Linked DNA regions of Homo sapiens. The protein of the gene in region 1 interacts with the protein of each later gene in a pairwise test. Each region holds a gene or a part of one and is shown in the gene's direction. Other genes may lie near its edges. The genes, in order: GPR75-ASB3, ATXN3, KIF1B and RNF11.

The links.
Region 2: the proteins of GPR75-ASB3 (region 1) and ATXN3 interact in binary tests that used the Homo sapiens proteins (3 or more experiments, as listed by UniProt).
Region 3: the proteins of GPR75-ASB3 (region 1) and KIF1B interact in binary tests that used the Homo sapiens proteins (3 or more experiments, as listed by UniProt).
Region 4: the proteins of GPR75-ASB3 (region 1) and RNF11 interact in binary tests that used the Homo sapiens proteins (3 or more experiments, as listed by UniProt).

The regions. Positions count from the first base shown.
Region 1 is NC_000002.12:53,849,941-53,856,975, reverse strand, and holds part of GPR75-ASB3 (GPR75-ASB3 protein), read left to right. Parts: intron 1-2,110; exon of another isoform or gene 2,111-2,219; coding exon of another isoform or gene 2,220-3,842; exon of another isoform or gene 3,843-4,064; intron 4,065-7,035. Other genes in the region: GPR75 (probable G-protein coupled receptor 75), read left to right, coding at 2,220-3,842. UniProt on the Homo sapiens protein: Probable substrate-recognition component of a SCF-like ECS (Elongin-Cullin-SOCS-box protein) E3 ubiquitin-protein ligase complex which mediates the ubiquitination and subsequent proteasomal degradation of target proteins. Recognizes TNFRSF1B.
Region 2 is NC_000014.9:92,082,583-92,089,582, reverse strand, and holds part of ATXN3 (ataxin-3 reference isoform), read left to right. Parts: intron 1-765; coding exon 766-853; intron 854-6,079; exon of another isoform or gene 6,080-6,170; intron 6,171-6,324; coding exon 6,325-6,457; intron 6,458-7,000. UniProt on the Homo sapiens protein: Deubiquitinating enzyme involved in protein homeostasis maintenance, transcription, cytoskeleton regulation, myogenesis and degradation of misfolded chaperone substrates.
Region 3 is NC_000001.11:10,360,548-10,367,582, forward strand, and holds part of KIF1B (kinesin-like protein KIF1B), read left to right. Parts: intron 1-381; coding exon 382-496; intron 497-1,144; coding exon 1,145-1,278; intron 1,279-2,735; coding exon 2,736-2,797; intron 2,798-4,552; coding exon 4,553-4,698; intron 4,699-4,861; coding exon 4,862-5,101; intron 5,102-7,035. UniProt on the Homo sapiens protein: Has a plus-end-directed microtubule motor activity and functions as a motor for transport of vesicles and organelles along microtubules.
Region 4 is NC_000001.11:51,239,268-51,246,302, forward strand, and holds part of RNF11 (RING finger protein 11), read left to right. Parts: intron 1-7,035. UniProt on the Homo sapiens protein: Essential component of a ubiquitin-editing protein complex, comprising also TNFAIP3, ITCH and TAX1BP1, that ensures the transient nature of inflammatory signaling pathways. Promotes the association of TNFAIP3 to RIPK1 after TNF stimulation.

The DNA.
Region 1 (7,035 bases):
CAAAAAAAAAAAAAAAAAAAAAAAAAAAATTGTCTTTCTCATTATATAGGTATCAAAAGTGTTCAGAAACAAATATACAGCCTTTAAGTGGAAATAGAGCTATCTGGTACTATTTTTAAAAAATTCTAACCATCAAGAAACAAAAGTTCAGGATTTTCTTCTCTTATGGAACTTTTATTTGAAAGGAAAGTATAGAAAAGTTGGTCTCACTTTCCAGTGGACAAATTCACCATATCGTCCTGATCTGTACCATATGAATGTTAAGAATATAGATTAAGTTATCTTTTTCCTTGATTAAGGACACCAGTCAATTATATGGATTTCCCAGGACTGGTATATGTCTGATAGTCACTGGCATGGCTGTATCTGTTGTTAAATGTGGAGAGACTTCTGTATTGGGTAGTCCATAGCTGCTAATTGGAGCCCCAGGTAATCCCTGACTGACCTGGTTCATTCCGCTGTACCCCCTTGATCTGGCAACTAAAGGGTTAACAGCTGGAGGCTTCTGGGATCCAGCTTGAGCTGGTGGTTAAGTACACTGAACATCAGCCCTGGACCTCTGCAGTGCCACTTATTGTTCCTAAAATTCTAGATTAAGGCAAACCCTTTTTGGTTGTCAAGAACATAGTGCTGTCTCCAAGGAACAGCTTAGTCGGTCCCACCAGAAGCATCTGTTGGGAGCAGGTTGGGCACCAACCCTTGCAGGACTTTGGGATTTGGGACAATGTAGATTTGTGTGAGTGCACATTAAGTCTCATTGCAAAATAGAAAAAAAAAAGTTAGGAAAAAGGAGCAAGAAGTTATTCTTTTAAAGTAGAGACTGCCTTACTCATCGTAGCACCTAGCACCTGGCGTAATGCTGGCATATGGTATGCACATAATTAATATAAATTGAGCGAACGAATGCAGGAATGGGTGCATGCCTCCTGCTTCACCATCAGGATATTCTTGTTGGGATAATGGTAACTCACATTTATATAGCAGTTTAGACTTTACAATGTGGTGCTTTGCACCTTGTAAATTTCTAATATAATTCCAACATCCTTGGTTACTTCCAGTTTTCCGTCTCACATGTAGTCCTACACAAGGTTTTTTTCCAAAGGAGAATATGTAGTTAATTGGCCAAGAAATTGCAAGCTGGGGGAAAAATTATAAATACTGGGAAATAAAGGATTCTTCATAGGGAACGAAACAGGGTTTGTTAATGATTTATGGGAATTATGTGAAGGGCCACATTATGCATCAACAATACCCTCCAGCCTATATTTCAAGCACATGCAGTTTTTTGCCGCAGTGCTTCTGCTGCAAAGACCTACCCCCACTTCTCTTAGCCTGTCTGTCCCCACTCCATACCCCCGACCTTTCATCCAGCTGGCCTGTGCTTGCTAAAGCTCCCTTTATCCTTTCCCAGCTCCCTTTCCATGTTGGAGTAGGTTCCCCCCTTCCATGCTCTCATAGCACCCTGCAACCTTATTAGGCTGTAATTATTACATAGTTAGATTGATCTCCAACTAGATTGTCATCTCTTTGGTGGAGAGATTACGTTCTTGTGTATCTTCAGTGCCTGACACAGAAGTGTTTCTAAAAGTAACATCTGCACACCCCTCAAACAGAATCACAAGGGGCGAGGCCAAGAAATCTGCTCTCCAAGTGATAACTTAAACTTTTTAACATGCTCTTCAGGTGACACTTAAACTTGTTTGAAAACCTCTGTGTCATAAAACTAAATATTAGCTGGATGAATGTATTTGTATCTTTTTCTGTGTTGGCCTTTGTGAGGAGAAATGCTGTCTATGCACCAAATCAGAGCTGAAAAATTCTAGTGTTTTGTTAAAAAAAAAAAAGAGAGAGAGAGAGCTGGGTTTGGTGGTGCATGCCTGTAGTCCCAGCTACTTGGGAAGCTAAGCCAGGAGGACTGCTTGAGCACAGGAGTTCAAGTCCAGCCTGGGCAACATGGTAAGACCCCATTGCTAATAAATGAATAAATTTTTCTCTCAAGGTGAGAGATACTAGTACTAATACTACTACTAATAATGAGATCACTGTATGAATTCCTTTCTGTTTCTACATTAATCCCTTTCTGTTTCTGGGTGTGCATTTTTGTGTGTAGGCTTATCTGTCTTGGGCCTCTTTTGTCACATATTGCTCATCTGTGAGCTGAGGCCCTGACTCACTGAGTATTTTTGGGGAGCAGAAGAAGGAGACATTTCTCTCCGAAAATGAACTCAACAGGCCACCTTCAGGATGCCCCCAATGCCACCTCGCTCCATGTGCCTCACTCACAGGAAGGAAACAGCACCTCTCTCCAGGAGGGTCTTCAGGATCTCATCCACACAGCCACCTTGGTGACCTGTACTTTTCTACTGGCGGTCATCTTCTGCCTGGGTTCCTATGGCAACTTCATTGTCTTCTTGTCCTTCTTCGATCCAGCCTTCAGGAAATTCAGAACCAACTTTGATTTCATGATCCTGAACCTGTCCTTCTGTGACCTCTTCATTTGTGGAGTGACAGCCCCCATGTTCACCTTTGTGTTATTCTTCAGCTCAGCCAGTAGTATCCCGGATGCTTTCTGCTTCACTTTCCATCTCACCAGTTCAGGCTTCATCATCATGTCTCTGAAGACAGTGGCAGTGATCGCCCTGCACCGGCTCCGGATGGTGTTGGGGAAACAGCCTAATCGCACGGCCTCCTTTCCCTGCACCGTACTCCTCACCCTGCTTCTCTGGGCCACCAGTTTCACCCTTGCCACCTTGGCTACCTTGAAAACCAGCAAGTCCCACCTCTGTCTTCCCATGTCCAGTCTGATTGCTGGAAAAGGGAAAGCCATTTTGTCTCTCTATGTGGTCGACTTCACCTTCTGTGTTGCTGTGGTCTCTGTCTCTTACATCATGATTGCTCAGACCCTGCGGAAGAACGCTCAAGTCAGAAAGTGCCCCCCTGTAATCACAGTCGATGCTTCCAGACCACAGCCTTTCATGGGGGTCCCTGTGCAGGGAGGTGGAGATCCCATCCAGTGTGCCATGCCGGCTCTGTATAGGAACCAGAATTACAACAAACTGCAGCACGTTCAGACCCGTGGATATACCAAGAGTCCCAACCAACTGGTCACCCCTGCAGCAAGCCGACTCCAGCTCGTATCAGCCATCAACCTCTCCACTGCCAAGGATTCCAAAGCCGTGGTCACCTGTGTGATCATTGTGCTGTCAGTCCTGGTGTGCTGTCTTCCACTGGGGATTTCCTTGGTACAGGTGGTTCTCTCCAGCAATGGGAGCTTCATTCTTTACCAGTTTGAATTGTTTGGATTTACTCTTATATTTTTCAAGTCAGGATTAAACCCTTTTATATATTCTCGGAACAGTGCAGGGCTGAGAAGGAAAGTGCTCTGGTGCCTCCAATACATAGGCCTGGGTTTTTTCTGCTGCAAACAAAAGACTCGACTTCGAGCCATGGGAAAAGGGAACCTCGAAGTCAACAGAAACAAATCCTCCCATCATGAAACAAACTCTGCCTACATGTTATCTCCAAAGCCACAGAAGAAATTTGTGGACCAGGCTTGTGGCCCAAGTCATTCAAAAGAAAGTATGGTGAGTCCCAAGATCTCTGCTGGACATCAACACTGTGGTCAGAGCAGCTCGACCCCCATCAACACTCGGATTGAACCTTACTACAGCATCTATAACAGCAGCCCTTCCCAGGAGGAGAGCAGCCCATGTAACTTACAGCCAGTAAACTCTTTTGGATTTGCCAATTCATATATTGCCATGCATTATCACACCACTAATGACTTAGTGCAGGAATATGACAGCACTTCAGCCAAGCAGATTCCAGTCCCCTCCGTTTAAAGTCATGGAGGCTATAGGATCTTATGTAAACAGTTTTTGTTTCTGATAGTAATGGACTTTATTCTAACTTGAGATCAGTGGCGGATCAAAACCTACAAGATTCAACTGAAAAGTTGGCAGTTATGGTTTTCTTTCATCTGATGTGTCAGTATCTGTTGATTTGCTTTGTAGTTTGTTGACATCTTAAGATTTGATGTGAAAGTTTTAGATTTTTTACCCTGCTCTTTGCCTCAGTCTTTTGTACCGAGCCTTTAAATAGATGCCAGGAATGAAGCTACTGTGTTAAAGTAGAAAGTCAACCGATTATCATGATTTGAGTCAGTGTTATGTGACTTCAAAATAAGGTATTGACTGGATTTTTTTTAAAGAATGTGAAAATATGATTTTTGCTGAGGTGTTATTTTTATTAATTGAATTGTAAATTTTGATTTTTTGAAGTGTTGAAATCGGGAACACTACACCTTGTTGGTAGCAGGTTGATTTGAATAAATAATATATTGTTAGCTGGGTGCAGTGGCATGCACCTGTAGTCCTAGCTACTTGGGAGGCTGAGGCAGGAGGATCACTTGAGCCCGGGATTATGAGTCCAGCCTGGGCAACACAGCAAGACCCTGTCTCTAAAGGAAATGTATATATTCTTTTTTTTTTTTTTTTTTTTTTTTTTTTTTTGAGACGGAGTTTCACTCTTGTTGCCCAGGCTGGAGTGCAATGGCATGACCTCGGCTCACCGCAACCTCCACCTCCCGGGTTCAAGTGATTCTCCTGTCTCAGCCTCCCAAGTAGCTGGGATTACAGGCGCATGCCACCATGCCCGGCTAATTTTTGTATTTTTATTAGAGACAGGGTTTCTCTGTGTTGGTCAGGCTGGTCTTCAACTCCTGACCTTAGGTGATCCGCCTGCCTCGGCCTCCCAAAGTGCTGGGATTACAGGCATGAGCCACTGTGCTTAGCCAGAAATATATATATTCTTAAGGCAGAAAAGGTGATAACTCTGTCTTTACCAAAAACACTCACACAGGTATTAGGTACTTTTCTTTCATAGGACAGTCAACTAAGAATATAGTATTATGATTATTGCCATTTCTTATTATAGACATGTTTTATGTCAGTTGAGTAGGTTTACAATTCTTTTGAAAAGAAATATATTTGGGCCGGGCATGGTGGCTCACACCTGTAATCCCAGCACTTTGGGAGGCTGAGGCGGGTGGATCACCTGAGGGTCAGGAGTTCGAGACCAGCCTGGCCAACATGATGAAACCCCGTCTCTACTAAAAACACAAAAATTAGCAAGGCATGGTGGCAAGCACCTGTAATCCCAGCTACTCGGGAGGTTGAGGCAAGAGAATCGCTTGAACCTGGGAGACAGGTTGCAGTGAGCTGAGATCGTGCCATTGCACTCCAGCCTGGGTGACAAGAGCGAGATGTCATCTCAAAAAAATGAAAAAAAGAGAAAGAAAGAAAGAAAAGAAATATATTTTTGCTTGTTAAAAGTGAATTATTTATTTATTTATTTTTTTCCTGAGAGGGAGTCTTGCTCTGTTGCCCAGGCTGGAGTGCAGTGGCATGATCTCTGCTCACTGCAACCTGCGCCTCCCGGGCTCAAGTGATTCTCCTGCCTCAGCCTCCTGAGTAGCTGGGATTACAGGCGTGTGCCACCATGCCCAGCTCATTTTTGTATTTTTTAGTAGAGACAGGTCTTGAACTTGTCTTGAACTCCTGACCTCAGGTGATCTGCCTGCCTCGGCCTCCCGAAGTGCTGGGATTACAGGCATGAGCCACCCCAACTGGCCCAAAAGTGAATTGTTTCTGAATGATCTTATTCAAGAAGCCTAGTGAAGAGGACTGCATCTATGGTAGAGGTGCACTGTTCCCAGGAGAGAAGGCACTGCGGTAATCATCTCGGTGTTCTGTGGAAAACAGTGTGGACTCCTGTCATGCATTGGGCAATATTTATTATTGCTTAACAAGGTTTACAGATAAGACTGGGAATGTTTTGATTTATGTTTTCCTTCTGTGTGAGAAGAGTTTACTAACCACCTGACAGTATTCAAGTAACTATTTAGAAATGACTTCTTTTTTGTCTTTATTTATTATTATGGTAGAAAAATTCTCAAGATAATCTATTTTCAAACTAATCATTTTATTTCTCTCCCATTAATCTTAAAGTGGAAATGGGCAGAAAGAAAAAATAGATTTAAGTATTTCTATACCTGAAACTAATTTTACTATATGCTCTGAGATTCCTAGCATAACAACTGTGAACTCATATTTTATTGTAAAAATATTTTCAGTATACAGTTAGTATTTGAACTCACTAGGTTTTTAAATGTTAGACACACAAGATGAGCATCAATATACAACACCTATCTTTATAAATTGTTATATTCAAGAGTTATTATTGCAGATTGGAAGGTACTTTGTTCCTTTGCGTAAAAGTCTTTTTTTTTTTTTGTAGAAACAGAGTCTTACTCTGTCACCCAGGCTAAAGTGCAGTGGCATGATCTCAGATCGCTGCAACCTCCGCTTCCCGGGTTCAAGCGATTGTCTTGCCTCAGCCTCCAGAGTAGCTGGGATTACAGGTGCCCGCCACCACTCCTGGCTAATTTTTGTATTTTTGGTAGAGACAGGGTTTCACCATGATAGCCAGGCTGGTCTTGAATTCCTGGCCTCAAGTAATCCACCCACCTCGGCCTCCCAAAGTGCTAGGATTACAGGCATGAGAAACCACATCCAGCTGAAAGGCATTTAATTTATAGTTTCCTCCCTCAGCTCTCCCCAAATACAGGGGTCATGAGAGGTATAGAGAAGACAGAATAGATATTCAATTAGAACTCTGCTCAACCTTATCTTATAACTGTTACCTTTCAGTATTGATCAGTTATTTCTATTTTTGAGATTTAAATAGGCATAGATTTTCTTTTGTTTTCTTTTTCTTCTAAATTTTTTTCTTGCCACACCCAGGGGCAGCCTCGAATTATTTTGTTTTTAAGTTCACCTTTTAGACTGATTTGCCTACCTACTCCCTCCTTCTTTCCCTTTCTCCCTCCCTCCTTCCCTTTTTCCCTTTTCTTTTTTTTAAGATGGAGTCTCATGCTTGTTGCCCAGGATGGAGTGCGGTGGCACAATCTCGGCTCACTGCAACCTCCGCCTCCCAGGTTCAAGCGATTCTCCTGTGTCAGCCTCCCGAGTAGCT
Region 2 (7,000 bases), on another chromosome or scaffold:
GCGGATCACAAGGTCAAGAGATCAAGACCATCCTGGCTAACATGGTGAAACCCTGTCTCTACTAAAAATACAAAAAAATAGCTGGGTGTGGCGGCGTGCGCCTGTAGTCCCAGCTACTCGGGAGGCTGAGGCAGGAGGATGGCATGAACCCGGGAGGCGGAGCTTGCAGTGAGCCGAGATCGCGCCACTGCACTCCAGCCTGGGCGACAGAGCAATACTCTGTCTAAAAAAAAAAAAAAAAAAAAAAAAAGAGTATTTAGCAGAGGCCAGGTGCAGTGGCTCATGTTTGTAATCCCAGAACTTTGGGAGGCTGAGGCGGGCGGATCATTTGAGGTCAGGAGTTTGAGACCAGCCTGGCCAATGTGGCAAATGTGCTGTCTCTAACTAAAAATACAAAAATTAGCTGGGTGTGGTGGTGCAGACCTGTAGTCCCAGCTACTTGGGAGGCTGAGGCAGGAGAATCACTTGAACCTGGGAGGCAGAGGTTGCAGTGATCCGAGATCATGCCACTGCACTCCAGCCTGGGTTACAGAGTGAGACTCTTCTCAAAAAAAAAAAAAAGTATTTAATAGTGATAAATCTGCAGTATTCTCTTGTAGTTTTTAAGATCATATTATTCAGTCAAAGAAAAGAGCTCAACTTGAAATATTTCCAGAGTTTAAACAATCTTACTAAGCTTTGATGGGTTGTATCTATTCTTAACATGTGAAACTTCCTTATTACCTATAATATACACTAACTTAAATATTGACAATTTTTTTCCAGTGGTTTAACTTGAATTCTCTCTTGACGGGTCCAGAATTAATATCAGATACATATCTTGCACTTTTCTTGGCTCAATTACAACAGGAAGGTAAGTAACGGCTGAACATTTTGTAATGTTACCTTTCGAAGTAGTTAAATAACCAGGCACATTAGATGACAGTGTGATAAAACTGTTTTTCTGGCAGTGGCAGTGAAACAATCTTTAGTTTTGACGTGGTGATAGGCTGTGATTTGGGTGACGCTGTTCAGTTAGAGTTCTCACTGACACCTGGCCCTTCCTCTTCTGAGGATGCTGCTTTCTTTGCAGCCCTTCTAAGTAATGGCTTTTTCTTTTATACATCACATATCACACGGCTGAGAGGAGGGATAGATGTTTTTCTTCTTTGCCTCTTCTAGGCCACTGTTCTTCCTTATAAACTCCAGTTTCTTTGAAATACATGCCCCTAACGGCTGGGCACGGTGGCTCACGCCTGTAATCCCAGCACTTTGGGAGGCTGAGGCAGGCGGATCACGATGTCAGGAGATCGAGACCATCCTGGCTAACACGGTGAAATCCTGTCTCTACTAAAAATAACAAAAAATTAGCCGGGGTGTGGTGGCGGACGCCTGTAGTCCGAGCTACTCGGGAGGCTGAGGCAGGAGAATGGCGTGAACCCAGGAGGCGGAGCTTGCAGTGAGCTGAGATCGCGCCACTGCCCTCCAGCCTGGGCGACAGAGCGAGACTCCGTCTCAAAAAAAAAAAGAAAAGAAAAAAAAAAGAAATACATGCCCCTAGATTAAACTATCCCTTGTCCTTTTGCACTCATCCACAAGTCTCTTTTCATCAGTGATTTTAGGATCTGACTCGTTGTCTTTTTCTCTACTTCAACTACTTTTATCATTCTTAATTATTTCTGTATCGTCAATCAATCCAGTACCTGCCTCTTAGTTTCAAAATCACTTACTCTTGCTTAGCTATTACCAGTAATCATAACCACTGTCAAATCTCAATTGCAAGCATATTACTCTTTAACTACCACCTCCTATCTTTAAACCATGTTTTGTCTGTTTTTTTATTCCAGCCATTCTTTAAACCCTACTGTGGGGCCCAAGCATTTCCTTTATACGCATTCTTCCTTTCTTCTACTGCTTATTTTCTGTAATCCGTCATCATAATCACTCCATTGCATTCTTCAACGTGTTTCCCCTCTCTCCCTCCATCATACTTGAATGACAAAAATCTCAACCCTGGTTAAACCACATCTTGGCCTTGTCCATTCCTGTACCAGAGTAGCTGGACGTGGCTAAAAAATAACATAAAACATGATGATTGGTTTTACTTTTTTCTTAAATGATCTATCCATCCATTCACCCATCCATCTATCAAAGTGACTAGGCCTATTTCTGAAGCCCAGGCTGGAGTGCAGCAGCATAATCACAGCTCATTGCAGCTCCAAACTCCTGGGCTCAAGTGATTCTCTTGCCTTAGCCTGTTGAGTAGCTGGGACTACAGGCTTGTGCTACCACACCTAGCTAAGGTTTTACTTTAAATTTATTATAATCACAAAATTCAGATGAGCCTTTAGTGCTGTCTGATATTTCTACTATGTTTTCTTAGTGATGTACCACCCTCCAAGGTGTTTATAAAAAATTATGTACCACTCTCCAAGAAGTTTATAAAAAATAATGTGCCACCCTCCAAGGTGACTAATTTCACAGCTTATGTCTTTAAACCTTTAAGCACTTTCCTCTCCCTTACACACCTTCCTTGTGGCTTTCCGTTACATTCTGCTGAGAACATAGAAGCAATTAAAATTATGTTCTTTCTACCAGCAAATTTATCAATTTGCTTATATCTTCACCTGTGCTTTGAGCCTATTTAAATAGATGAATGGTCCCCTACCTCTAACCAAAACCAGTCCCTCACTTGTGGGCTGGATCCCAGCTCTTCTCACCTACTCAAGATGTTCCTGCTTTCATCTCTCCACTCTCTTATATAATCAGTTCCCCCCCCCTTTTTTTGTAATATTCCTATAAGCAGTAAAATAAGCTTTTTATTTCCATTGATTAAAAATAAAAATCCTCTCTTAATTCCATGAAACTCCAGCTGCCTCCCCATTTTTATTTTTTCCTTAGGATTGTCTCTAGTGTGCCTTCTCCTTTTCTTGAACTCTGCCTCCTGGGTTCAAGCGATTCTCCTGCCTCAACCTCCCGAGTAGCTGGGATTACAGGCGTGCACCACCATGACCGGCTAATTTTTTTTTTTTTTTTTTGAGATGGAGTTTCCCTCTTGTTGCTCCGGCTGGAGTGCAATGGCGTGATCTCGGCTCACCGTAACTTCTGCCTCCTGGGTTCAAGCGATTTTCTTGCCTCAGCCTCCCGAGTAGCTGGATTTACAGGCATGTGCCACCATGCCTGGCTAATTTTGTATTTTAGTAGAGATGGAAGGGGTTTCTCCATGTTTGTTAGGCTGGTCTCCAACTCCTGACCTCAGGTGAGCCGCCCACCTCGGCCCCCTAAAGTGCTGGGATTACAGGCATGAGCCACTGCGCCTGGCCCCGGCTAAATTTTTTTTTTTTTTTTTTGTATTTTTAGTAGAGACAGGGTTTCACCATATTGGCCAGGTTGGTCTCGAATTCCTGGCCTCGAGTGATCCACCTGCCTCAGCCTCCCAAAGTGCTGGGATTACAGGCGTGAGTCACCTTGCCTAGCCATCTTTTAGTAATGGTATTTGGAGATCACAATTTGAGTGCTGGCATGCTTATTGCTGCTGGGTTTGTTATGTAGTTATTGTGAATTCACATTTAGGAATATAGGGTTTTTAATTCTTTGATTTTAGATACTTGTATCTTTTTTCTTTTATATTTAAAACCTTGGTTCCTGATGATATCCCTTCTTAGAAACCCTGTCTACCTTTGGCCTTCAGCCCACCATGCTGTGGTTTTCCTAACTTGCTGCCTGCACTTTTCAGATTCCTTTCATGGATCTTAAATATCATCTGTAAATAAGATCTATGTGTCAATAATTACCAAACTTTTATCTTTAGTCTTGACATCTACCCTGAACACCTAGCTTTGACTAACTCCTAGCTTTGGCATCTCCACTTGGAAATCCAAAAAGTGTTTCAAACTGAACATGTCTATGAAAGACTTATTTTTTTCTCTCTATCCATGCTATCCATCAGGTTTTCCATTTCCATAAGGGTGACTCTTGTACTCTGGTTCCTATATATTATACCGACAGAGCAGCCCAGAGTGCTTCTTAACCAGTGTAAGGCCTGTTATGTCCCACCCTCACTCTTTGTCCTTCAGTGGCTTCCCAGCACACTTAGAATAAAATCTGAAGTCTTAGGCCGGGCTTGGTGGCTCATGCCTGCAATCCCAGCACTTTGGGAGGATGAGGGGGCAGATCACTTGAGGTCAGGAGTTGATGAGACCAGCCTGGCCAACATGGTGAAACCCTGTCTCTACCAAAAAATACAAAAATTAACTGGGTGTGGTGTTGTGCACCTGTAGTCCCAGCTACTCGGGAGGCTGAGATAGGAGAATCACTTGAACCCGGGAGGCAGAGGTTACAGCGAGCCAAGATCATACCACTGCACTCCAGCCTGGGTGACAGAACGAGACTCTCAAAAAAAAATTAAAAAAAAAAAATATGTGAAGTCTTGAATAAAACCCAAGATCTTTACCATGGCCCCTGAACAGGGCAGAGTATCCATTCTTCAGACACTCTTCATAGAATACCATGGTGAGCTGGCATATTTATTATACAATACAGAAACAATTTTACTGGCAGAAAACACATTAAACCGTCTAAACTCTGAATACAGTTGTCCTCATAAAAAATGTTCAACATACTATTTTGAGGTTTTCCATTAATAGTTCTTATAATCTTTGTCCCATTATGTGTTAATCCAACAAAGGATATCCAATAACAAACACCAAAGTTTAAGAAAAATGTGCTAGGCGCGGTGGCTCACACCTGTAATCCCAGCACTTTGGGAGGCCGAGGTGGGCAGATCACCTGAGGTCAGGAGTTCGAGACCAGCCCAGCCAACATGGTGAAACCCTGCCTCTCCTAAAAATACAAACATTAACTGGGTGTGGTGGTGGGTGCCTGTAATCCCAGCTACTCAGGAGGCTGAGGCAGGAGAATCGCTTGAACCTCCTGGGAGGCAGAGGTTGCAGTGAGCTAATATTGCACCACTGCACTCCAGCCTGGGTGACAGAGTGAGACTCCATCTCAAATTAAAAAAAAAAAAAAATTAATGATAGAGAAACTTAAATCAGTTAGATTGTTTTAGGTATAGCCCATCCTTGGTTTTTGTGTGTAGCATCTAGCTTGGGGAAACCCTGGATTTCTGGAATCATATTTAGACACAGTCACACTAGACTAATGTAATTCTTTTGGGATGCAAACCACACGTTTGACACCTTAAATAGCTTTTAGGTATTTGGCTTCCCAGCCCCTATTTTTAGTTACAAGGGGTGTACATGTGTGGGTCAGGGTGGGGGTAGCTCTTTCCGCAGATGATTAGTTTTAGCCATGTTACTAGTTATTGCACACATTATCTGTGTCCTCACAGCAGCCCTGTGAGTAAGTGTATTAGGGTTCTCTAGAGGGACAGAACTAATAAGGTAGATGTATATATGAAGGGTAATGTATTAAGGAGTATCGACTCGTATGATCACAAGGTGAAGTCCCACAATAGGCTCTCTGCAGGCTGAGGAACCAGGAAGCCAGTCCAAGTCCCAAAACCTCAAAAGTAGGGAAGCTGACAGTGCAGCCTTCAGTCTGTGGCAAAAGGCCTGAGAGCCCCTGGCAAACCACTGGTGTAAGTTCAAGAGTCCAAAAGATGAAGAACTTGGAGTCTGATGTTTGAGGGCAGGAAGCATCCAGCATGGGAGAAAGATGAAGGCTCAGCAAGTCTAGTACTTCCACACTCTTATTTCTGCCTGCTTTATTCTAGCTGAGCTGGCAGCTGATTAGATGGTGACCACCCAGTTTGAGGGTGGGTCTACCTCTCCCAGTTCACTGGCTTAAATGTTAATCTCCTTTGGCAACACCCTCGCAGACACACCCAGAAACAATAATTTGTAGCCTTCAATCCAATCAAGTTGATAATATTAACCATCACAGGAAGGTACTAGTATCATATGTTTAACAGTAGAAACCAAGACAAATGCAGCTAGGAAGTGGGAGAACTGGGATCAGATGCAGGCAGTCTGATTCTAAATCAGTTGCTGTTACCCACTCTGACAACAGTAAGTGAGTAGCCTGCTCAGTCAAGTACTATATTAGTAGGGCCCTTTACAGACATATTTATTTCTCACAGTCACTCAATGAGACGGCTCTTCCAGTCTTACAATGGAGAAAGTGAGGCTCAGAGACTTTAAGTAACTTACCTTAGACGACTTTACTAGTAAGTATAAGAATCATTATTTGGACTAAAGTCTTTCTGAATCCTCAGCTTGTATTTTTTTCCAGTGTTCTGTGCTGCCTTTTTATCTACTAGTGTTTTACATCAATTTTGAATCTCTTTACTAACTGGTTAGGTTGATTTTTGCCTTTTTTTTTTAGGTTATTCTATATTTGTCGTTAAGGGTGATCTGCCAGATTGCGAAGCTGACCAACTCCTGCAGATGATTAGGGTCCAACAGATGCATCGACCAAAACTTATTGGAGAAGAATTAGCACAACTAAAAGAGCAAAGGTAAAAATGAGGCCTGCAGTATGGAATATATGGTAGTATTTCATTATGAGAATTAAATTTTCATGCTTAGATTGAATATGTGGTCCTTGTGTTGTTGGCGACTCTATTTTGGACCTTATATTTTAGTGAAGTTTATTAGTTTAAACTTGAATCAACTCTTTGAAATACTTAAATATATTAACTTAGTTAGCTGGTATGGTATATTCCTAGCACTTCGGGAGGCTGAGGCAGGCTGATTGCTTCAACCCAGGAGTTCGAGACCAGCCTGGGCAACATGGCAAAACCTCATCTCTACAAATAGTACAAAAATTAGCCAGATGTGGTGGTGTATGCCTATAGTCCCAGCTACTTGGGAGGCAGAGGAAGAAGGATCACCTGAAACTGGGGAGGTAGAGACTACAGTGAGCCATAATCACACTACCGCACTCCAGCCTGGTCGAGAGAGTCAGACCCTGTCTCAAAAAAAAAAAAAAAAAGAAACGGAAAAAAAAAACTTAGTTGGATTCAAATTGCAACACAATCATTATATTACTAGAGCTTATT
Region 3 (7,035 bases), on another chromosome or scaffold:
GGTGGCGGGCGCCTGTAATCCCAGCTACTCGGAAGGCTGAGGCAGGAGAATCACTTGAACCCGGGAGGCAGAGGTTGCAGTGATCCGAGATTGTGCCACTGCACTCCAGTATGGGCAACAGAGCAAAATTCTGTCTCAAAAAAAAAAAAAAAAAAGCACAACTAAGTGTTCCTTAATGATGGGTGGGGTTGGGAGCAAGAGGATGGGGACCTATCTTTTCCTCCTAGGAGATAAGGGTTCCTCTCTGTTATTAGAGTTTGATAAACTGAAAGTGTCTGTTGGTTGGCGTATGGTTCTTTAGGATGATTGACAGTGGCAGTACCTGGACTAACGTGACTTTAGCTTCTTTTGGATGATTCCCTCTTGTCTTTCTGACCTTAGGACCTTCTACCGCTTTGAGGCTGTGTGGGATAGCTCTCTGCATAACTCCCTTCTTCTGAACCGAGTGACACCCTATGGAGAAAAGATCTACATGACCTTGTCGGCCTACCTAGAGGTGAGGAGACTTGGAACTTCAGTTGATGCCAACAGTCAGCCCTGAACAGTGTGCAGGTTACAGCAGGAAGTGGTCAGCGAAGATTCCACTTGTTTTGTCCTCTTTCTTCCTCCACATCCTTAAGTTTTTCATTTTATTATACATTGCTAACTCTTCTGATTATATTAGACTCTATTCCTGGGTTCTGTTTACTCAAAAAATCACATGACTCATTGCAGCTTCAGCTTTAGTAGCCTAATCACCATTGTTTGAAGAATGTGTGATTTTTAAGAAAATGTCACCTCTTGTTTTTGTAGTTGTGGACAGAGTGTAATAGTGGTTAATAGCCCAGACCCAAGACCCAGCCTGTCGGTTCAAATCCCTGTGCTGCCACTTACTTCCTCTATGTCCTTGGAGAAACTCTCTTTGCCTCAGTTTCCTCACCTATCAGGAGAAACAACATTTACCTCAGATAAAAATAAATGCATCTCTAAGGAGTACTACCTACTCTTGCACATATTATCCATTGGGTGGCTGTTGAAATAATTGGTGGAGCTAAAATCCTTCAGTTCTCACAACTGGGACTCGCTTTCCAAATACGTTCGTGTATAGACTCTAGTCACAGTACTCTGCCTGCACTTCATCAGCACCTACCCTGTCTGCTTTCAGCTGGATCATTGCATCCAGCCGGCTGTCATCACCAAGGATGTGTGCATGGTCTTCTACTCCCGAGATGCCAAGATCTCACCACCACGCTCTCTGCGTAGCCTCTTTGGCAGCGGCTACTCAAAGTCACCAGATTCGTAAGTTTTTCACACAAGTTAGCTTCCAGTGTGTTTGTTCAGTACAACAGAATCATTAGTCCTTAAGTATTCTCGGCTTACTGTCTCACGGTTAGTTTACAGTTTATGAACCATTTTGGTAACTGACACCTGGAATGTACTGACTTGCATGCTGACATTTAATAAAATGTTGATGGATGGACGAGTTATGAGGGAAGGAAGGAATATTACATTGTGAACACGTCTAAAACAATTTTGCAAAGACTAAATTTGCAAAGACTTTTAAATGTCATCATCATTATTTCTAACAGAGTACCATTGAAATTTTCTTCTTTTTAAGATTTGTTATGCATATTTAAGGCATACAAAATATGTCAGGAATAATACAGTGAAGGCCATACACAGTGGCTCATGTCTGTAATCCCAGCACGTTGGGAGGCTGAGGACAGAGAATTGCTTAAGCCTAGGAGTTTGAGACCAGCCTGGGCAACACAGACCCCATCTCCACAGAAAATTTTAAAATTACCCAGGTGTGGTGACACACACCTGTAGTCCCAGCTACTCAGGAGGCTGAGGTGGGAGGATCACTTGAGCTTGGGAGGTTGAGGTTGCAGTGAGCCATGATAGAGCCACTGCACTCCAGCCTGGGTGAAACAGTGAGACCCTGTCTCAAAATTTAAAAAAAAGAAAAGAAAAAGGAAAAAAAAAAAAAAGAAAGAAACAATACAATGAATACCTGTGTATCACCGCCCAGCTTAAAAATAAGTGTTACTAATACAATAGAAGGTATTATACCTCCTACTACTCACAATCCCCAGAAGTTGTTGATTATCATTTCATTCTAGTCATTGTTTCCCTCATATCGTCTCTCTTATAGTAAGAAAAGACAAATTTTTAGTTTTCACATTTATATTTTAAATTTTCTAGTTTATCATTCAATTTTATTCACCCTATTGAAATAAAGTGTTTAAAAGATAGAGATGAGGTGGGGCATGGTGGCTTATGCCTATAATCTCAGCACTTTTTGATGCCAAGGTGGAAGGATCACTTGAGGCCAGGAGTTCAAGACCAGCCTGGGCAACATAAGGAGACCCTATCTCTACAAAAAAACTTAAAAATTAGCTGGGTATAGTGGTGTATGCCTGAAGTCCCAACTACTCAGGAGGCTGAGGCAGAAGGATCACATTAGTCCAGGAGTTCGAGGCTGCAGTAAGTTGTGATTACATCACTGCACTCCAGCCTGGGTGACACAGGGAAACCCTATCTATAAAAAAATTAAATTGAGATGAAAGCGGACTCCTCTAGGAAAAGGTATGCTACTTAGGTTCAAAATAAGAAAAGAGCGGTGACAAATAAGAAATGCCTGGAATTATATTTGAGTCCCTGCAGAGAAGACACTATTTTAAGTAGCAGAAATTGAAATTTTCCTGTTTTTGTGCTTTAAGAGATTAAACAATTGTTTTATTTTCTTCAAATAGGAATCGAGTCACTGGCATTTACGAACTCAGCTTATGCAAAATGTCAGACACAGGTAGTCCAGGTAAGCTCTTGTGGATTGAGGAGGTGATAGTTATCTTTGTGTATGTTTCAAGTATCCTGTATTTAGGCTGGGCACGGTGGCACACACCTGTAATCCCAGCGCTTTGGGAGGCCAAGGCGGGTGGATCACCTGAGTCCAGGAGTTCAAGAGCAGCCTGACCAACATGGTGAAGCCCCCCTTTCTACCAAAAATACAAAAATTAGCCAGGTGTGGTGGCGCGTGCCTGTAATCCCAGCTACTCAGGAGGCTGAGGCATGAGAATTGCTTGAACCTGGGAGGCAGAGGTTACAGTGAGCCGAGATTGTGCCACTGCACTGCAGCCTAGGTGACAGAGTGAGACTCAGTCTCAAAAAAGAAAAAGAAAAAAAAATCAAATTATTAAGTCAGATTTGTTCTGTATTCTTTTTAATGTGTTTTTAAACTGCTCTTGTTCCTCTAGCTAGGCGGAGTTAAGCAGCACTTAGCATTTCTATGTTTGTAAACCGAAACATGAACAAAAGTTAAGGTTTTCTAATAGCATTTGATTAATGTGAGTTTGAGTCATTTTACAGAATATACATGGAAAACAAGTCAGGGCCCACAGGCAAGACTTAGATAAGTAAAGAAGACTTTGAGTATGAATCCAAGTAGCACCTAATTATTATACTATCCAGATAGTTTCTTGAGGAATTTTTTTAATTAATATAAATTCATGTATTTAATATGTAAAACCAGCATAATACTAAAAAAAATTAACAGGAAATAATAGAGGCTAAAGTTCTCTGTCATCTGTCAGCCAGTGAGCTACTGAGTGTGTGTATGTGTGTGTGTATTCCCTTCCGTCTTTTTAAAAATTTTTATTTTTAGGGACAGGATCTTTTTTTTTTTTTTTTTTTTTTGAGACAGAGTCTCGCTGTGTCACCCAGGCTGGAGTGTGGTGGCGCCATCTTGGCTCACTGCAACCTCTGCCTCCTGGGTTCAAGTGATTCTCCTGCCTCAGCCTCCTGAGTAGCTGGGTTTGCAAGCACCCACCACCATGCCCAGCTAATTTTTGTATTTTTAGTAGAGATGGGGTTTCACTATGTTGGCCAGGCTGGTCTCGAACTCCTGACCTCAGATGATAGCCCACCTCAGCCTCCCAAAGTGCTGGGATTACAGGCGTGAGCCATCACGCCCGGCCCCATAGTGTATAGACTACTACAGACTATTTAATATTTCTGCATTTTCACCTAACATCATAATTTTATCATTTTCTTAAATTGCATCCCAGTCTTCATAATTATCAAAGAATGTAAAACTCAGTTTTTAAAAACGTTCAGTTGCTTTGCTATTTAAACAAAATCCCATATATCTTCAGACCAAACTGTCTTAGTTTGCTACGTATAAGAATTATTAATTCGTGGCCAGGCGCGGTGGCTCACGCCTGTAATTCCAGCACTTTGGGAGGCTGAGGCAGGTGGATCACGAGGTCAGGAGATCGAGACCATCCTGGCTAACACAGTGAAACCCGGTCTCTACTAAAAATACAAAAAATTAGCTGGGCATGGTGGCGGGCACCTGTAGTCTCAGCTACTCGGGAGGCTGAGGCAGGAGAATGGCATGAACCCAGGAGGCGGAGCTTGCAGTGGGCTGAGATCACGCCACTGCACTCCAGCCTGGGCAACAGAGCGAGACTCCATCTCAAAAAAAAAAAAAAAAGAATTATTAATTCGTTTTGACCTAAACTTGGAATTGAATTTTTTTTCTGAAACAAAAACTTGTTTCCTCTTGTCTTAGGTATGCAGAGAAGGAGAAGAAAAATCTTAGATACGTCAGTGGCATATGTGCGGGGAGAAGAGAACTTAGCAGGCTGGCGGCCCCGTGGAGACAGCCTCATCCTTGAGCACCAGTGGGAGCTGGAGAAGCTGGAGCTCCTACATGAGGTATCCAGGGGCAGGGTTGTTCAGATGCAAGAACTCTCGGACAAGATTGCCAAAGTATCAGTCTTCCTCCCCGCTGCTGCATGTGATCATAGCTTTTCACTTTTCTCTCCTGAGGTCTTAACGAGCTTTGTGTTTGCTATAGCAGTAGTATTGATCTTCTCAGGTGGAAAAAACCCGCCACTTTTTGCTGCTGCGTGAGAGACTTGGTGACAGCATCCCCAAATCCCTGAGCGACTCGTTATCCCCCAGCCTCAGCAGTGGGACCCTCAGCACCTCCACCAGTATCTCCTCTCAGATCTCAACCACTACCTTTGAAAGCGCCATCACACCTAGCGAGAGCAGTGGCTATGATTCAGGAGACATCGAAAGCCTGGTGGACCGAGAGAAAGAGCTGGCTACCAAGGTGTGAATCCCTTCCTCTTTGCTGAACGTCTTCCCACAAGGCTCCACAAACTAGCCTCTCGGTTTATTCATTTTCAACACCTTTGTTCGAGGTGTTTGAAGGCCTGTGATAATACTGTGAATGTAGAAATAAAAAGACGCAGTTCCTACCCTCAACAAGCTTACAGGGCCAGGCACAGTGCCTGATGCCTATTATCCCACCACTTTGGGAGGCTGAAGCAAAGGGATTGCTTGAGCCCAGGAGTTAAAGACAAGCCCAGGCTAACATAGTGAGACCTTGTCTCTACAAAAACAAAAATTAGGCCAGGCATGGTGGCTCACACCTGTAATCCCAGCACTTTGCAGGGCTGAGGCAGGTGGATTACCTGAGGTCTGGAGTTCGAGACCAGCCTGGCCAACATGGTGAAACCCTGTCTCTACTAAAAATACAAAAATTAGCCAGGCGTGGTGGCGAGCGCCTGTAATCCCAGCTACTCAGGAGGCTGAGGCAGGAGAATTGCTTGAACCCAGGAGGCGGAGATTGCAGTGAGCCGAGATAGCTCCACTGTGCTCCAGCCTGAGCGACAGAGTGACACTCCATCTCAAAAAATAAAATAAAATAATAAAAAATTAAAAAATTAAAAAATATAAAGGTTGCAGAATATTAGGTCACAAGCATATAATAGAGATGTGTGTTTCAAATGCTATGGGAGTCAGAGGAGAAGTGTCTATGGTGGGGAGCTCATGAGCTGACCTTGAAAGGATGCGCAGGAGGGAGGCAGCAGTGTCGACACCTGCGTGATCAGGAGGGAGGCAGTGGTGTCCTGCGTGATCAGGAGGGAGGCAGCGGTGTCTTGCGTGATCAGGAGGGAGGCAGCGGTGTCCTGCGTGATCAGGAGGGAGGCAGTGGTGTCCTGCATGATCAGTCTTGGGGAATTCACGTGGGACTGGAACAGGAGGTGTGGAGTGAAGAATCTTGTATACTGCACTGAAGAGTTTAGAGTGGATGATGGGAGCAAGGCAGAAATATGTTAAACAGGTATTTGTGTTTTAGAAAGATTTCTGGCGAGGGGCGGTGGCTCACGCCTGTAATCCCACCACTTTGAGAGGCCGAGGCAGGTGGATCACAAGGTCAGGAGATTGAGACCATCCTGGCCAACATGGTGAAACCCCGTGTCTACTAAAAATACAAAAATTAGCCGAACGTGGTGGCGTGCGCCTGTAGTCCCAGCTACTAAGGAGGCTGAGGCAGGAGAATCGCTTGAACCCAGGTGGCGGAGGCTGCAGTGAGCCGAGATCGCGCCACTGCACTCCAGCCTGGGCAACAGAGTGAGACACCATCTCAAAAAATATATATATTTCTCTGGCAGCAATAAAGAGAATGGATTGATGGTGAAGAGATACACTGAGGAAGGGAGAATTCTTTATCTTTATTACAGTAATCTGATGAGAAATGATAAAAGCTTTTTAAAATTTTATTTTTTTTGAGATGGAGTCTCACTCCTGTCACACAGGCTGGGATGCAGTGGCATGATCTTGGCTCACTGCAACCTCCACTTCCCAGGTTCAAGCGATTCTCCTTCCTCAGCCTCCCAAGTAGCTTGGAGTACAGGCATGTGCCACCACACCTGGCTAATTTTTGTATTTTTAGTAGAGACAGAGTTTCACCATGTTGGCCAGGCTGGTCTTGAACTCCTGACCTCAGGTGATCCACCCGCCTCAGCCTCCCAAAGTGCTAGGATTACAGGTGTGTGGACGCCCAGCCAGATAAAAGTTTTTTAAAGAAGGCAGAGGTGGCTGGGTGCGGTGGCACACGCCTGTAATCCCAGCACTTTGGGAGGCTGAGGTGGGCGGATTGTGAGGTCAAGAGATCACTATGATGTTTTTATTTTTTATTTTTATCTTTATTAAATTTTTTTTTTTTTTGAGATGGAGTCTTGCTCTGTGGCCCACGCT
Region 4 (7,035 bases), on another chromosome or scaffold:
TTTCCAGAAGAACTAGGTGATGATGAGGGATGAGGGGTTTTTGGTGTCATGAAGGAACTTTTTTTGGAAATGTTATATTTTTGACAGTGGGAGTTTTTTATGGTTGCAGTTTCCTGAAGTGAATGACGCAGACTAATATACAAATTCAGTATCAATCAGAAGAAAATTACTTTAAAACATGGGAGCATAAAAAGAAACTTTTGGAGAAAAAGTATTGTCCCCCACCCCCAAAGAAATAAGATCTGTCTTAGGAATGGTTATTTTAGATGATCTGAGAAACAGCAATCCAAGGTTATTTATTCATTTATTTGAGTTGAGAATCTCCCTCTGTCATCCAGGTTAGACTGGATTGCTCACTTGGCAGCCTCAAACTCCTGGCTTCAGGTGATCCTCCTCCCTCAGCCTCCCAAAGACTGGGATTACAGGCGTTAGCTACCTCACACAGCAGATTTATAGTATTCTCAGTTGATAAAAGTAACTTTTTCAACAAATTATATGTAATTAACAGTGAATAGCTGATTGTAAAGGAACATGTTCTCTTGAGGTGAGTAGTTAAAAGATGTCATTGTTTGCTGCTTTATATGTACAATGTACATATAATGACAAGAGCCAGTTACAGTTATTTCCTATTAACATCTGACAAATTTGTTTTTATTTATTTTTGCCTTAAAGTAAATCCCTGCACCATTATGATCCAAGTTTGTAGGAAGTGTATATTTCTTTCCATGGTTTCTTTTGTAGCCTCCTAACAGTTATCCCTGCTTTCACCCTTGTCCTCGCTAAGGCCTGTCCTCAATACAACAGCCACAGTTATTTTGGTAAAACTGAGCATGACAGTCTCCCCAACCCTCTGTGTGGATCCTTGTTTCATTCAAAGTAAAAATCAGATTCCTTATAGTGTCGCATAAACCCTACATAATCTGTACCCCTTGTTTCCACGCATGTCCCTTGACACCTACAGCTAACCCCTTTGTTGGCTTCCCTCCAGCTTCCCTGTCCTCATTGCTATTCTAGGACCTTTGTCCTCCTTATTCTGGAATACTCTTCCCCAGATTTCATGGCTGACTGACTCCCTTACCTCCTTCAAGTCTTTTCTCACTGCCCCCTTAAACCTTCTCTGACCACCCTGTTTGAAAGTGCAACCTGCCCTAATAACCTGGAAGTCCCTCTCACCCTGTTGTTTTCCCCCCCAATACCATTTATTACATTCCAACATGTGTTAGAAAGTTGCGTTGTCTATTACCTGTCTTCTCCCACTAGGTAGAAAGGAGGAAAGGGGATTTTTTTTTTTAATTGGTGTTTCCTAAGTACTTATAACAGTGCCTGGCACATGTTAGGCATTCAGTAATTTGGTTGAACGAATGAATAGATTTCTTTTAAATGAACTAATGTATTTGAGGCAGGTATAGTTGCACTGCTTACAAGAACTCTGCATATTCCTAGTGCCATTTTTGCTTCTATATTGTAGATCAGGTTTTTTTTTGTTTGTTTTTTTGTTTTGTGACTGGGCCTCCCTGTGTTACCCAGGCTGGTCTCTCTCTGTATATATATGTTTGGGTTTTTTTGTTTTCTCTTTTTTGAGACCAAGTCTCACCTTGTTGCCCAGCTAGAGTGCAGTGGTGTCATCTTGGCTCTGCCTCTTGGGTTCAAGCGATTCTCCTGCCTCAGCCTCTGGAGTAGTTGGTACTACAGGCATGCGCCACCAAGGCCAACTGATTTTTGTACTTTTGGTAGAGATGGAGTTTTGCCATGTTGACCAGGCTGGTCTCAAACTCCTGACTTCAGGTGATCTGCCCACCTTGGCCTTCCAGAGTGCTGGGATTACAGGCGTAAGCCCCTGAGCCTGCCCTTTATATTTTTTAAATTTAAAAAATAGAGACAGGGTCTCATTATGTTGCTAGTCTCAAACTCCTGGGCTCAAGGGATACTCCTGCCTCAGCCTCTTGAGTAGCTAGGGTTACAGGTGCACTTCTACTCTGCCTGGCTCAGGTTTTAAAAAAAATTTATTTCCTTTAGAGATGAGGTCTTGCTGTGTTGCCCAGGCTGGAGGGCAGTAGCTATTCACAGGTGCAATTATAGTGCATTGCAGCCTCCACTTCCTGGTCTCAAAGGATCTTGTGGCTTCAGCCTCCTGAGTAGCTGGGACTACAGGGTTACACCACCGTGTCTAGCTGTTGTAGATCAGTTTTAAGGAATCCTAAAAAGTCAAATTCCAGTAATATTAAATACAGCAATTGGTTTACACTAAGTGTTAAGTGATTTAGGGGTTTTTACCGTGTATATATATCACCGCAAGATATTTATGTAATGGGAAAGTACTTGGGGGAGAAAAAGAAAGTACTTGAATCCCTATTCTTGAAGTATTGGATGCAAAGAGATTTAGGGTGTTTGTCAAATTAGAAAGTAGAAACAAATTTGTCGCACCCTCTACCCAACTCCCTTATTCCTAAATGTTTAAAAATAATACAGAGGAAATCTGCCCAGCGAAGGCAATCTTGGAAGGACAGTGAGTGGGAGGATAAGCCAGGAAAGGCTGAAGAAGGGAGGTCCATGAGAGGGGGAGGCCAGGTAGGCAGCCCAGCCCTGAAAGGCATATGTAAAACAGCTTGAGGTACCCCTGTGTCACTGTCAAGAGCTTTGTTATGTGCTAAATTGAGGGAGGCACTTTGTTAAAAGAGTGTAATATTCATTGAACAACAAACCATGTTACATTTTCTAATCTGAATATATAAAAATAAGGATAGGTGTCTCTCAATTTTGCAGTAGTTATATAGTTTGAGATTCGCCAGTCTTCTTCCCCGACCTATACTTTTTGATTGATACATTTGAAATTTTAAAATCCTGAGAAAATAAGTTTGTATAGCATTGAATGCAAGTATAGCTCTGCTTTTAGAGTCAGATTGTCCTGTGTTCAAATTCTGGCTCTGCCGCTTACATGTAAAATATGAAAAAGGAAAGAATTTATCAGATTGTTTTGGGGAGCTTTTTTGACAAATAAGAAAATGTAACATTTTGGATATTTCAAATTGTGTCTGCATAAAGCTTTCTTCAAGATACCTTTTTTTTTTTTTTTTTTTGGCTGGGCACAGTGGCTCACACCTGTCATCCCAGCACTTAGGTGGCAGAGGCAGGAGGATCACTTGACCCCAGGAATTCGAGACCAGCCTGGGCAACAAAGTGAGACCCCCATCTCTATTAAAATACCAAACAAAAACAAAAAACAAACAAAACCAAAAACCCTCTTTTGTTGTTAAAAGGATTGGTTTATCCTGTAGAATGCACTAAAAATAACCCCCTTCCTTATAAAAAATCTAGAATGTACTGCTTATTTTTAAGCATGCAATGCTATAATGTTTTGTGGGGGATGGGCTTGTTTTTTTTAGAGATGGAGTCTCACTTTGCCCAGGCTAGTTTCGAACTCCTGGGCTCAAGTGATCCTCCCACCATGTCTCCCAGTGTTGGGATTACGGATGTGAGTCACTGTGCCCTGCCTGTAATGGTATATTAATGCCTCATTTTCCTGATAACTTACGAAGTTAAATTTAGATAATTAAAGGGTTGTGTTTTTTTATTAGCATTTTGTTTAACATTTGGGTGGAAAATATCTCCAAATTTATTTCACGTATCTAGGCCTTATTATACAATTATTCAGCTTTTAACAATTTACCTTTTTGAAGTTTTATCCCTCCCCTTCTTTATGCTCAAGAAGTTCAGCCTTCTTATTGAGGGGCAGATCAACTAACTCCACCTTTGTTAATAAAGCCTTCACTGACCATTTTTTTCCTGTCTCTGCTGATTTGTCATGTACAGTTTTTTTGTGTTTGTAACATTTATCTGGAAATCATATATTGCCTTATTAGCTTTTGTTGCTTTAACAGTTGTTTCTCCACATCAGTTTCCTCAAGAATGAGAATGATACATTAAACTTGTAAGATATCTTAGTGGAGTAGAATGTTACCTTCCATATTGTAGACACCCAGTGAATATTTGATGATAGACTAAATTAGAACTGTGACTTCTTACCTTGTAAGGTCACCATCATAATTGTCCTCATCAGTTCTTACAGCAACATAATTGATGTCTCCTCCTCATTCATTTTATACCATGTTGCCAGATAAATTTCATCCCGGATCAGATCACTTGCCTCATAATCCTTAATGATTGTTATTATTATTATTATTATTTTTTGAAACAGAGTCTTCACTCTGTTGCCCAGGCTGGAGTGCAGTGGTGCCACCTCAGCTCACTGCAGCCTCCGCCTCCCGGGTCCGAGCAATTCTCCTGCCTCAGCCTCCCGAGTAGCTGGGATTACAGGCATGCGCCACCACACCCAGCTAATTTTTGTATTTTTAATAGAAATGGGGTTTCACCATATTGCTCAGGCTGGTGTGCAACTCCTAACCTCAGGTAATCCACTCACCTTGGCCTCCGTAAGAGCTGGGATTACAGGCGTGAGCCACCACGCCCGGCCCTTAATGATTCTTTATTAGGACTAACCACTGAAGATATCTGACTTAGCATTCAAAGTCATGATTTGGCTCTACATATACTTTTTCAGCTCTTCATAGCCTTGTGCTTTCTTTTATACAACCTGTATACTCCAGTCATACTGAGCAGTTTGCTGTATTCCATGTATGTCTTCTGCTTTCCTGTCTTTGCCCATTCTGTATCCATTGCCCAGAATGTTCTTCCTTAATCCTTCCCAGTCTCATTTCTAATATCCAGGGCCCAGTTCAAATGCCAAGAATCCACGAATTCTGATTTCTCCTACATACACTTTTCTTAATCTGAACTCCTTTATTCATGCACCATTCTTAAGACACTTTACCCTTTTAATTTTAATTATTTGTGACAGTGTCACATCTGCTCTTTTAGAATTCAAGTCTGGTTCATTTTCACATTGCTAGAACTACAATTTTCACAAAGCACGCACTTATACTTTAGTGAATGTAATGATCAGCATTTTGCTGTAAGAGTGTGCAATTGTATGGTTGTTAGTGTCTATTAAGCATTCCCAGAATCCTGTGCTTTAGTGTTTGGCCTATCACTTCTAATTTATAAAGTACGTTGAGCTTTGGGAAAGTTAATTTCATTATATATTTTTTGAATTTGTTTTTTTTTTTGTTTGTTTGTTTGAGACGAAGTCTCGCTGTGTCACCCAGGCTGGAGTGCAGTGGCGCGATCTCAGCTCACTGCAAGCTCCGCCTCCCGGGTTCACGCCATTCTCCTGCCTCAGCCTGTCCCGAGTAGCTGGGACTACAGGTGCCCGCCACCACACCTGGCTAATTTTTTGTATTTTTAGTAGGGACGGGGTTTCACCGTGGTCTTGATCTCCTGACCTTGTGATCCTCCTGCCTCGGCCTCCCAAAGTGCTGGGATTACAAGCGTGAGCCACCGCGCCCAGCCTGAATTTGGTTTTGTGTTCCATGAAGTTCAGCTTGCCTAGGTGACTTTTATAAATAAGTAACCAGTTATTTGTTATTTGTGTGACCCCATTGTTGCAGGATTTTTCTTTGTTTCTGCCTGACCTCTCATTCTGAATGTGCTTTAATAAAGGCTGATTTTTTGGCATTAAGATTGTATGCATCACTAAGAGTAAGATAGTCTGTTCAGAGTTTAATTCTAGAGCTAATTATAGGGTAACTTGAGAAGATGGAGATGGGATGGTGAGTTACTTGGTACATAAGATCTGAGCACTTGATTTTCTTAAAATATTTTTTAGGTAATAGTAGAAACCTTTGTTGCAGAATTTTGATCTTTAAAAGTTTTAATAGAAATACTTATGTAGATTGGGATTCTTTTTCTTTCTTTGAGACATAATCTTACTCTGTTGCCTAGGCTGAATGTAGTGGCATGGTCACGGCTCACTGAAGCCTCAACCTCACGGGCCCAAGCCATCCTCCCACCTCAGCCTCCTGAGTAGCTGGGACTATAGGCGTGCACCACTTTGCCTGGCTAATTTTTATTTTTTGTAGAGACGGGTCAAGCAGTCCTCCCATCTCAGTCTCCTGAATAGCTGGGACCACAGGTGCATACCACCACACCCAGCTATTTTTTGTATTTTTAGTAGAGACGGGGTCTCACTATATTGCCCAGGCTGGTCTCAAACTCCTGAACTCAAGCAGTCCACCCACCTCGGCCTCCCAAAGTGCTGAGATTACAAGTGTGAGCCACCATGCCCACCCAACAGCCTTTTTTTTTGGAGATGGAGTCTTACTCCATCGCCCAGGCTGGAGTGCAGTGGTGCAGTCTCAGCCCACTGCAACTTCTGCCACCTGGGTTCAAGCGATTCTCATGCCTCAGCCTCCTGAGTAGCTGGGATTAGAGGCAAGCACCACCACACCTGGCTAATTTTTTGTATTTTTAGTAGAGATGGGGTTTCACCATGTTGGCCAGACTGGTCTTAACTCCTGACCTCGTGATCCACCCACCTAGGCCTACCAAAGTGCTGAGATTACAGGCGTGAGCTACTGGGCTGGACACCAACAGCCTATTTTTAATAACCCATATGAGTACAGGACAGAAATACATCCCTAACTCTGTACCTGAAGTAAGGAAGGTAATACATAAAAGACATATTTGCAAACGACTTGAGGCAAGAAAAGAAATACAACACATCTCTAATTCTGATTGTATCTGCAATCAACCTCTTATCACTTCCCTCTTCATGTGCAGAATTTACCTTGGCTGAGACACAGTCAAGAAAGAAGACAGGTGGCCAGGCACAGTGGCTCACACCTGTAATCTCAGTACTTTGGGAGGCTGAGGTGGGCGGGTCACCTGAGGTTAGGAGTTTGAGACCAGCCTGACCAACATAGAGAAACCCCGTCTCTACTAAAAATGCAAAAATAGCCGGGTGTGGTGGCACATGCCTGTAATCCCAGCTACTTGGGAGGCTGAGGCAGGAGAATCTCTTGAACCCAGGAGGTGGAGGTTGTGTTGAGGCTAGGTTGCGCTGTTGCACTCTAGCCTGGGCAACAAGAGTGAAACTCCATCTCAACAACAACAACAAAAAAGAAGACGACAGGCTGTGTG